Linked DNA regions of Homo sapiens: region 2 is linked to region 1. The links come from fine-mapping of genetic effects on gene expression. Tissue or cell type: esophagus muscle. Region 1 holds a variant in brackets; the other region holds the start of a gene. All regions are shown on one strand. Distances are from middle to middle.

Region 1 (5,936 bases):
TGGGAGGAGGTTTTATACTCTGATTTCAGAATGTAAATGATGGCAAGGAGAGCCAGCGGGGGTGTGAAATGGGCCAAAACTACCGGCCCTCCGGGGTGCTTCTCACTGCTTGCCCTGTCTTGCCGTTCTCCTCGACACTCCTGGTATTAATCATCACCAGGACAAAGTCTGCCTTTCCTGCCAGATGATCTGCTTCAGGAATGCAAGTGTTGGGATTACTTTGTTCATTGCTGCATTGCCCACTACCTCCATAGGGTCCAACACATCACAAATGCCCAATGTATTTCTGTTGAATGAATACATGAATGAATGTCCTGTGACTTCTTTCCTACTGAAAAAAAGGCAAATTCACTACGAATGATTGCTACACAGGGAAAATATTTGAAATCTGAACTGTGCAATTGAGCCCATTTTCACTGATACTAAATTTCTCCTATGAAGTTCATTTTGGATCAGAAAAAAAAAAAACTAACAACAGAGTACAAAAAGTGTATGTAGAATTTGTCTTGGTGTTTCTTCTCTCTCTTTACTCACTTCTCTCTGTGCACCCCAATCAGGCCATTTGGGTCGGTCTACAGCAACTTTGACAGGCTTTGGGAGAGTAAGTAGATGTTGTACTGTTTGTCTACTTATAGTTCCATCAAGGGAGTAGCTGTAAGTCCCCAGAGGATGAGCCTGTATGTTGAAAATTACCTTAATGGGTTTTTGGCCCAAACGTGTTTTCCAGACATGCCTTGGTCTCCTGTTTACTTTGCCAGGTCAATTGGGTGGTGACAGCTGTGTGAATATAGGGAGAGCCCTGTCTGGGCCATGATTTTGCTGGTGGTCCTTAGAAGCTTTTGAAGCCATTTTGTCCTTCATCCTCTTTGCACTCCCAGGGAGATTTCCAAATGGATGCAGCTTGCTACTCACTAGCCATTGCCCCTGGGAGGCTCCACTGCCATCTCACCTACCATCCATTCTCCCACCAGGCAAGGACCTTTTATTTCAGTATCTTGGCTGAAAGCATTTTCATCCCGTAGGAATGATCTCAGGGGAGACACTCAGTTTATCCTGTTCTTTGACTGAAGCTGCCTCAGCCACCTAATCCGCCATCCACGCTGGGCTTTCTGTAATACGCTGGGTTTAAATAAATTATATTTTCAAAGGTTAAGACTGGATTTCAGCAGTCAACTCTCCTGCTGATGTCTCTCTTATTTTCTCAACCTAAGAAAAAGAGAGAGAGAGCTGGTAGGTTTATGAAGGAAAGAGATTGTTCCTGCAATCTCAGCTCTGTGAAGATGCTATTAATTCTTTTGCAAAATCTCAAATCCTTCCTTTTCCTTTGTGTTACTGCAATGGGACAGAGAGGACGCTTTCTGTCTGGTGCTTCTTGTTTGGAAGGTCCATGAGCATAGGCTGGATGTTGTGGGGTTGTCTCTTTGTCTGTAATGGATAAAAAAACAAAAGAAGATAGAAAATGGTTGGAGGAGGAGAAAGGTGAAAAGAGAGGAGGAGAAATGAGTGATTGTTTCTCCTGAGGTCTGCAATGTCAAAGAGGTGACTGTTTGTTGCATTTGCATCCTATGTGGCTTGAAATATTTGTATTGTCTTGGACGTGATGCTAGGTGGCAAAACAACAACAACAACAAAAAAACAACAAAAAAAAACCACAAAAACAAAACAAAAACCCTACACACAATAAAAAATAAAAAACAAACATTTCTGAAACATTCAGTTGTGTAGGAATACTATTATTTAAAAACTGCCGAAATATTTCCATAACAGCAACAGGGTATAGAAGAGCAGCCAGGGCCTCCTTGTTTCAGGCCTAGGGGGTAAAGGTGGCATGTCCCACGGATTGCCAAAAACTTTCTTGGTAACCGTGGTAGGTGCCTGCACTGCTTGGCAGGATGTGCTTCCTTGGCAGGAGCATTCCCTCCCATATGTGTGCACGTCACTGGTACCTCCTGAGGATCCTCTGTCTTTGACATAATCTCTGAAGGAAGCAGGCGCTTGCTGTGTGCACTCAAAGGCCAGTGCCCCAGCACATCCGAGACTCCCCACCCTCCTCTCCTATATTCTCTCTCACCCCGACTTCCTGCCATCTGTCTTTTCATGCAAAGAATGAATCTGAAAGAAGTAGGTTCAGGCCAAGTCTTGGAGGGCAACCAGAGTGAGCTGGGTTCTGCGGGTCCATGCTCCTCCAGCCCCGCCCTTCTCTCCTTCAAGAATCCACCTCTCCAGGAATCATGGCTACCTTGCCCCATACCCCCAGCCGCAGCAGGGCTTGAGATGCCTTTTCTGTGCTTCCACAGCACCCTATGATTTTACCTGACTTTAAACTTAGTACAGTTCAGGAAACTCGTCTATTTCTTATTCTTCTTCTACATGAGACTGTAATCTCTTCAAGAATAACATGCTTACCTAGAACAGTGGCTGGTAAACAGCTGGTGATTGATAACAGCTTTTGAATTCATAAATGAATGGCATTCTAGTTGTTCACTTTAGAAGTAGGTAGACCTGATAAAAATGAGAAACATGATTGACAGCTGGGATTTTTACAATGTGTGTTACAAAGAGTCCATCTACTTTCCTATCTGGGCTCTGGTCCTTTATAGCAGACTGTGATATCCTTGG[C/T]GTGAAGCACGTACCATGCATTCTAGTTCAGTCAGAGACTGGCCAATTAAGAGCCCTCAAGGAATATTAAATTCATGTTTACATTAAGAATATAACTATGTATGATAACAAGACTTAAGCTAATTTACTTATTAAATGAAATAAATAAATAACAAGTAGGAAAAAATAGAATGTAAAAAGATGATGGGGTCTTCTATGTACCAAAGAGGTATACTATTTCTATTCTTAGCTAGTCAGTAATAGCTTTGCTTTAACCCTTTTTAGCTCAGCCCATTCTCAATTAGAATCCATTCCAATCACAAATATGTCTTTATTAAAGTGTTACTCTGTAAAATATTATGCTCAGTATAGCATATTCTTAAAAAGCTTTGTAAGTGTGTACAACATTTCCTTCTTCTTTTTCCGGTTATTAGTATGCAGATAGCTCTTGGGAAGCCAACCCTTCCACCAGCCCTGCCCATGTGGGTTGGATGTACTGGGCACAAAGTTAGATCCAGAGATGGCCAGTGATCCAGGCCTAGCCAATGGAAGCAACAAGAAATAGGCAGGGGCCCAGATGTGTCCCAAGAGACTGAACTCTGAGACTTTTGTGGAACAGTTGGGAAGATTATGCATAGAGATCTCAAGACGGCTCCCCTCTCTTTTTGAGTCTCGTCTGATTTTGTTTTCCTTTGTTCTCTGTGGGGTGCTTTTTTGTAGTAACAAAACATGGAGTAACCTTGTTCACTAACCAACCCCTATTTCCTTGTCTCTAAGTACTTGACTCAGCAATTCAACTTTTTAAAGGGGTTGAAATTATTTAAAATTGCAGGCAACTTTAAAGTCAGCAAACCTATTTAGCCACACAATTTTAAAATAAGACTGAACAAACATTTTCACAGGAATTTCGATGCTGCAGGAGAAAGCTAGCATCCTTTTATCAGACACAATGTGTTTTGTTTTCAATGGAGGCCATCTCCTCATCCTCAGGCCTCTCTATCTGGGTTTATTTAAAATTCGAGACTGGGTTAGGTTTCTGTGCTGTTTCCTGCTATTAACCTTTGTCAACCTTGTTGCCTGCCTTAGGGGGAGGTCAAAGTCAAGTTCCAGAAGTAGTCTAGGTAAGTAAGTGTGATATTATAGACTCATCTTTCCTGAAGAATGATTTGAAGTCTCAGCCTTTGTGAGCTCCCAGTATGAAACAGAGAGGGAGAGACAGTCCCAGGGACAGAAAATGCAGCATCAGTATGGTTCTTTGTCCCTTAGTAAAATGGTAAAATGTTGTCCTTTGGGTTAGCTGTGGGCCATTAGTGTGTGGGCAGGTGGGGTTGGGCGCTGGATCACTGGAGGGCTGGGACAGGACTGGGGAAGGGTGGTGCAGCAGTGCTTCCTGTTCCAGTTATTAGGATCCTGTTAGTATCTCCATACCCCAGGGACGAGATTGCCAATTGCTGCAGGGTCTGTTCATAGATATTTTCAGCTAATCTTGGACTTTCATTTGCCAGAAACACTGGAAGATTTGTCTTCACAGATGAGAAAAAATGAAAGGATTCCTTGCAGTAGGAAGACAAAACATAATTGCCACAGGCTATTTCTGGATCCGAGGACTATTTGGGGCTCTGCTGGCAGTCTCAGCATTCAAACTCAGCAAGATACCCTGTTGAGCCCAGGTGATGTGGCCCTGAGAGCTCCTCGATCCCCTAAAACAGCTCTCAGCCAAGCAGAATGGCAGCCGAAGATCGGGGTTTGCCTGATCTGCATCACATCATTATGGAAGTAAGAGCTATTCCGTTCATGATGGAAACCTCTTCCCCACCTTTGCCCAGGTGGCAATGATGCTCTGAAACGCTGCTCCCTAAATACCGTCAGGACTTTCTTGTGCCTGACTGGGACCATGTAAGCAGCACTGCTTCCTCCAAGACACATGGCCCATTGTCTCCTATTTCTTTGTGATCACGAGAAGATAATGCAGAGAAATGCATTTCTATTGAAAGGCCATATTGTACTACTAAAGTTTCACCAGGCAAAGGCTTGGCCCGGCTTCTGGCATTTGCAGAGGATTTGAGGATTAGTGGTGAAATGTTGTGTGCAGAAAAGAAAAGCAACTAAAAGAGCTTCATCTCTGAAAGACAGTGTGTTAAAAGGGTTCACTTGTCTTTTTGACAGTAGAAAAAAAAAATCAAACTTAACTTTTCATTCTCACTTCCATTTTCCTCCAAAAGTCAGCCAATAGGTGGGGTCTGTCAAAGCACAAAGTGCAATAGAAAGATCAGCTCTCATGGTCAGACGTGTTAGGGTCAAGCCCACTTCAGGATGACTGGCAGAATCATGGCATTCTGCTAGGTTTCCAGAAATCCTCCTGCTGGTCAGGGTTGCAGGGACCAGGGACCATTTCCACACCCTTAAACTACAAGTGTCTTTTCTCTACTCCCTCTGTCTTCAATGACTCCTGACCTCAGTTTCTCTTTATAGCATATCCATGTTTTGAAAATAACCTATTCAATTTTAGACCCTGTCATGAGCATCATGGAAACATTTTACTACTCCTCAATCCTTCTGTTTTACCTCAAGTAGTCCGTAAAATATGCTGTAAGTATTCTATTGCTTCTTCCACTCCGGTTTTTTACTCTTGTTTTTTTTAAGAAATCATGTTTCATATTTTAAAAGATACAGAAGGGAATACAGTGGAATATCTGTGTCTTTCTTCCATGCCTATGCCCCAGCCAACCAGTTCCCCTCTCCCAAGATGATCAATGTCATTAGTTCTCAGTATCCTTCCAAAATCTTATATGCATATACAAGCCAATATTCTCTCTAGCTCTCTGTCTGTCTCTTCCTCTTACATAAATGATAGCATACAATACACTCAGCTCTGCATCTTGCCCTTTTACCTACCAACATTTCTTGGAGATCATTCCATATCAGTATATAAAGGCTTCTTCACTCTATTTTACATATTCCTTTGATTGCTTCTGCATCCGTTCCATTCTTCTGTTTCTCCAAAATCTTCCTTTCAAGTTCTGACTTCAGTGCAACTTCTCTTAGGAAGCCATCCCTAGTCATTCCAACCTCCCAGTGATCCCTCCCAATGCTGAGCTGTAGACTGTTGTTTGTTTTCTGAACTACTCATTTCCTGTATTGCTAGCTGTCTTTAATGTACTTGAGTTGTATCTTTCCATATAGACTGATGTCTTCAAGGACAGGGATCATGTCTTATCCTGCTTCGTAGCTCCTATCACACTACGTCATCTAACAGAAGCCTTTTCCTTAGTAGGGATGCAGTTAGTTTGTTGATTTGGTGGACAGCTCAGGGAACAAAATTTGCCAACTCTCTGCCT
Region 2 (5,375 bases), 750 kb before region 1:
TCAGCAGGGATGATGGATGTCTCAGGAGTAAGGAGATAGACAAGAAATCAGGTGGGGCAGGAACAGCAAGCAGTTTCTTCAACTCCCTTTCATTTAGACCAGAGGAAGGCCTTGACACGGTTCCTAGAACAGCTAATTTCACACTGTCTGGGGCAGAAGACATTCTGGGTTATCTTTCACATACTGGTAAGGTACCACCATCTGGGAGTGATGGTATAGACACAGACTAAACATGCCTGCCAACACTAATTATTATTATGGAGCCAAAGAATCAATGCAATAACTTTAAAACTGCTACTAAAAAATACCTTGCTCAATAGGCAAGGATTTCTCGACTATTTACTATGCGTAGCATAATATGCTTTGGACTCATCCTGTTTATCCTGGGGTTCTTTGCTAGAGATGATTTTACCCTCCAGAGGATATACAGCAATATCTGAAGACATTTTTGTGGTCGCAAGTGGGGGATGCTACTGTTGTCTGGTCAGTAGAGGCTGGGAATGCTGCTAAACATCCCATGACAACATGCCAAACGATGCCAGACATCACAGTGCTGCTACTGAGGAACCTTGCCATCTACCCCACCATTGAACCCAGAAGCAGGAAAGCAGAAGGCATGGAACTCACTCTTCGGCCCCTTTTCTGGTACACTAAGACCTTTCATATTCTGGCTTTAAAATAACAACAAAGAGCTTCCTGTAAGATCAGCCAGTCTTCAACCTGATTTCATGTTCTTAAATACCAGAGGCAAAATGCTTGAGGCTGAGCAGTGAACCCAAGAGCCAGGCCACAAGGCCTCCTTTTCCCAGGGTTTCTCCTACCTGTGTCTCCGTGTTTCCTGCCTCTGTGAAAAAAAGACGGCAAATTCTTTGCTAAACTCTCAGGATAAGAGAGTTTAACAAAGATTCCCCAAGGAAGTCTCTAAAAACAGAGTTATGTATGCAGTGTGTGGTATCGGTATGGATTCTCTACCAGAGGTGTGTAGCTCACAGGGTATTTACTGTGATTCTACTCCTAACCTAACGACAAAAACAACTTATTTTAAAAGTACCCAAGCATTTTAATAATACACAAGAGTCTAAATAAGGCTTAGAATTGGAGACGACCCAGTCTTGACTGGGAGCTCCCCAAATCACTTTACCATTACTGCCTTTTACTGTCTAGTTCTTATTTGTTTATTTGTTTATTTTTTTGAGACAGGGTCTTGCTGGTTGTCACCCAGGCTGGAGTGCTGTGGTGTTATCACAGCTCACTGCTGCCTGGAACTCCTGGGTTCAAACAATCCTCCCATCTTAGCCCCCCGAGGAGCTAGGACTACCGGCAAGCACCACCACGACCAGCTAATTACAAAAAAATTTTTGGGGGTAGAGGCAGGTCTTGCTATATTGCCCAGGCTGGTCTCCAACTCCTGGCCTCAAGCAATCCTCCCACTTCAGCCTCTCAAAGTGCTGGGATTGTAGGCATCAGCCACTGTGCCTGGCGCTGTCTAGTTCCAATGATTAATAATCATGTTTAAAGCATTGAGAAACTCTGATCACTTAATTGTGGTTTTTAGAAACACCATTTCTTTGTCTTTAAACAGAAAATGTGGTAACTGAAAACTTGCATTCTAATAAAGAAGTCTAAGAAACGCAGCCTAGGTAGTCAGATTTAGACTGAAGATTATGGGTCTTCTTTCTGGAAACATGTACAAGCATAGGTAGTTCAGGGCTGAGGTGAGGTAAGAGAGAACTGGTTAGCTCTCTCACACCACATCTAAAGAGAAAAACGGGTTGGTGCGGGCTCTGGGAAGTGGGGCTCGGTGGACGAGCCTCACTTTGCGTCTGGCAGTTGCAGATGGCCGGGCGATGGGAAAGCCAGTATTGGCAGAGCGGTCTCCCCCTAACAAACCCACCTGCAGGCTATGGCCAGAGCACCTCACCCAGAAATCCTGGGGACAAGAAGCAAAGCCGAGTGCATGCCGGAGACAATGGGGAGAACCCATAGGCAAGGTGCCCATCCCACGAGGCACAGCAGGGCGCTTCCTCCCGCCCTCGCCGTCCCCATCTCCCTGGCAGCGCGCTGTCACTTTTGGCAGGGAGGACAGTAACGCAGGGGGAGTCGCCCACGGGCGGGACTTGTAGCTGAACCCCAGGCCTCAGACTGCAGTTGACAAGCGACTGTGACAGGCCTCGCCGGAGGAGCTGGGCCCTGAATCACCCTGCTCCCCGGCCGGCTGTCGGCGCTGGGGGAGGGGGTCCCGGGGGTCGACTCACCGATCTGCCCGATGAACTCGATCTTGATGCCCTGGTGCTCCAGCCGCTTGTTGGGGTTCTTGAGGGCAAGGCTCACCTTCCCGGAGACCGTCTCCCCGTCGTAGAAGAGGAAATATTTCTCCTTCTTCCCGTCCTCCGTCTTGTGCTCGGCCCGCTTCCTACTCTCTGCATCGTTCAGAAGGATTTCCACCTCCACGCTCTGCCCGAAGCCGAAGAAGCTCATCGCACCGCCGGGCCGGGCGGGTCTCGGTAAGGACCGCTCCCTCGCACCGGGGCGCGGGCTGCCCTAGGTAAAGAAGGCCAGAGGGCCCGATGCGCGAGCGCGCTCGGCCGCCGCGGGGCTGCCTGGCTCCGCCGCTGCCGCCGGGCAGTGGGCGCCGACGGACAGCCGGCTCCACGGGGGAGGGGCACGGCCGGGGGAGGCTGGCGGCTGCGGGCTGCGGCGCCCGAGCAGCAATGCACCGAGGAGCAGTGCCCTCGGCCGAGCCAGTCCCAGCCAGTCCCGCGGCCGGTGGCAGTGGGCGGGCGAGGGTCGGCCGTGCAATGCTGCGGGGGGCAGCCGCACAGAGCCGGGTGTGGGTGGCCTGCGCCTGCCGGGTGGGGTCCAGCGCCGAGCAGCGCTGCGAGCTGCCCAGCCTCCGGCGGTGCAACGCACCGAGGCGCTTCGGCGGCTCCGGGCGGGGGAGGGGGCGGGCGAGCTCCAGCCCGGATGCGCTGGAGCAGCGGCGCGCAGGCGCACCCCCTAACGCTCCTGGGACTCCCGGCAGCCCGGAGGAGAGCTCGCTGCGCATGCGCAGGGAGAGCGCGGCCGGCGCTCCAGCGGTCGGCATGGCAGCTGCTACCTCGCTGGGACAGGCTCTGGGCCCACGCGTGCCGCGCAGTCCCTACAGAACTGCAGTTGTCTTGTCTTCTCGGAGTGCTTTCGGCTACTTTTCCCTTATTACTTTAGCTCGATACACGTTGGGCTGCCTTTCACATTCGGATATTACGCTGTTCGAGTGCTGACGGGAAAGGCAGCCCTTTGACACGCACGCGAAATGTCGCCTGACGAGGGCAAAGGTGACAGTTACTACCGGAAGTACCCTATCTCAGATACCCTTTAGATTTTCCCCCATTGAAGAAAAACGAGGCGGGAAAAACGCTGTTAGGGTTTAACTCAGGCCCTGGCTCCTTCTCGAACGAATTAGCGGAACACCCGCAGGAGCCTTGTTTGGCTTCCACTTTTCGGCCCGCCCAGTTCTCTGAGCGTGCGGCGGACGACGCCGGTGATTGGTTGAGCGAATGGAAACGGCTCGGCGCGGTGGTTGGCCAGTGGGAAATTCTGTACGTTGTGATTGGTCCACAGGAACGACTCGGCGCGCGCGCGGGAGCGAGCTTTGAAAGTTGAGCACGGCGGCGGCGAGCCGGTGCCCTGGGATCATGGTGGCGTTGCGGGGCCTTGGTAGCGGCCTGCAGCCCTGGTGTCCGCTGGATCTTAGACTCGGTGAGCAGATGCAGCCGGGAGGCCCGGGGGCCAGGGCGAGGGTCCTATGCGTCCCCGACGATGCCTAAGCCCGGGCCGGGGTGCCGGTGGGGGCGGGGTGGGGGCGCCCGGCTGTCGGCGGTGCCTGGGGTCCCCAGGGCCGTGCCACGCCAGGATTGCGGCTAGCCAGGTTTCCCGTGGGGGCTCAAGCCGGCCAGGCCACCCTTAGAATAAGCGAATGTTGGCCAGTCTCTTCTAGCGCCTGTGCATCTGTTTTCTCGGCCTTCCCCTTCTTCCTGTGCGTGTCTTCGTGCACCTATCTATTCTTACCTATTAAGATGGTTTTAAATTGCAAATCTCTTTCTTCCGCCAGACTTATTTCTTGAACTTCATGTTCATAGGTTCCACTGGATGTCTCACATGCAGACATCATCAAACGTCACATGAGTGAAAATGGGATTCCCAAAGCCTGCTAATGGCACCATCCAAGCCACCAACCCAGGAGTCATGGCATTTCTGCTTCCCCTTTCATGCCCACTACCACTGTCCTGCCTCTGAGGTGTCTCAGGGCAGCCCCGCTCCATTCCTGATGCTGCTGCCTTCATCATAGCCTCGAGCAATTGCAGGAGTATTTTAGCTGCTTTCTGATGTTAACTGTGCCAGCCCATCCCCCACACTTTTGCAGAACGACTTTTGAAAACACAGCTTTGAATGTGTCAAGCCTGTACACCTTTAATGTTTCCCCTTTGTTTCCTAAATAAATGACCACATCCTTGGCATGCTTTATAAGAGCTGCCATTCTCTCCAGTTTGATTTTCCAAGAGCATAACCTTTGGAGTCGGACACACTTGGATTGTTCCCTTGGCTCTACCCCATAGCATCCATGTATTACCGTGCAGGTTGTTTATCCTTGCTAAACCCCTGTTTTCTGATCTGTCAAATGGGGAGTACAATATCTACCTCACAGGGGTTTTTGTAAAGATAAATTTGTACTTGCCACATAATAACTGCTGAACAGATACTAATACCCACAAGCAAACACTGTAACAATTTTGTTCATTTAGAAACACTTTAATTTCTTTCCCTTTGTGTGCTTTGTTACACTGTGCTTGCTGGGAGGCACTTTTCTGCATTTATTTGCCTGGCAAAACTCTTACATTCAGGTCCAATTGAAGAATCATCTTATTCCTCTCCCTCCTCCCCCAGTACTATTCCCTATTAAGCTCTGTAGCATTTTACATTTTACATATCTATTATTTTAACACTCATCCATAGCAAAAATAATAAATACCATCTATTGACTGTTTTTTATGTGGCTAGCACATTGTTAGGGCCTTTATACACATTATGTTTCACAAAAATCCTGTATTTCCAATGATGAAGGAGAGACTAATTATGTGTAAGTGATCAAGTCAGGATATTTGCCTCGTTCTGACTCAAAATTCAGTGGCCTCTCTTCTATCATAGGCTGCTTTTTTTGGTATCCTAAGTGTGAAATGTTGAGATCTTTGTGGACAAGAACCCTCTAGTATTCATCTTTATATCCCTAGAAGTATAAGTGGCTTCCCTAGTATTTTCTCAAAGTGTTTGTTGAGTGAATAGGTGATGTATTTCTTCCTCTTCTTCCATCCTAAGTGAAGTAGCAGAGCAGAAGTTAC

Direction of the effects. Positions count from the first base shown, and alleles are read on the strand shown. Sizes are in standard deviations (SD) of each study's normalised expression.
For the expression in esophagus muscle of the gene that starts at base 2,930 in region 2, C is the low allele of the variant in region 1 and T is the other (moderate effect, 0.54 SD a copy in GTEx).

What was found. PIP is the estimated chance that this variant, and not a neighbour inherited with it, causes the effect.
Region 2: VPS26B starts here. The variant in region 1 is fine-mapped to the expression of VPS26B in esophagus muscle (GTEx, PIP 0.99).

Annotation. Positions count from the first base shown.
Region 1 is chr11:133,470,925-133,476,860 of GRCh38, reverse strand. All of the region lies in intron 1 of OPCML (opioid binding protein/cell adhesion molecule like), which reads left to right. Among named protein-coding and RNA genes, the nearest start is that of OPCML, 59 kb to the left of the region's middle. The variant C/T (reference allele first, on the strand shown) is at 2,620.
Region 2 is chr11:134,222,226-134,227,600 of GRCh38, reverse strand. It overlaps VPS26B (VPS26 retromer complex component B), which reads right to left and starts at 2,930. Exons shown (of 6, transcript NM_052875.5): 1 at 2,256-2,930. The coding sequence starts at 2,478. NCAPD3 (non-SMC condensin II complex subunit D3) reads left to right here and starts at 3,634. Exons shown (of 35, transcript NM_015261.3): 1 at 3,634-3,738. The coding sequence starts at 3,675. RefSeq lists enhancers at 2,044-2,193, 2,294-2,353, 3,144-3,193 and a silencer at 2,554-3,023.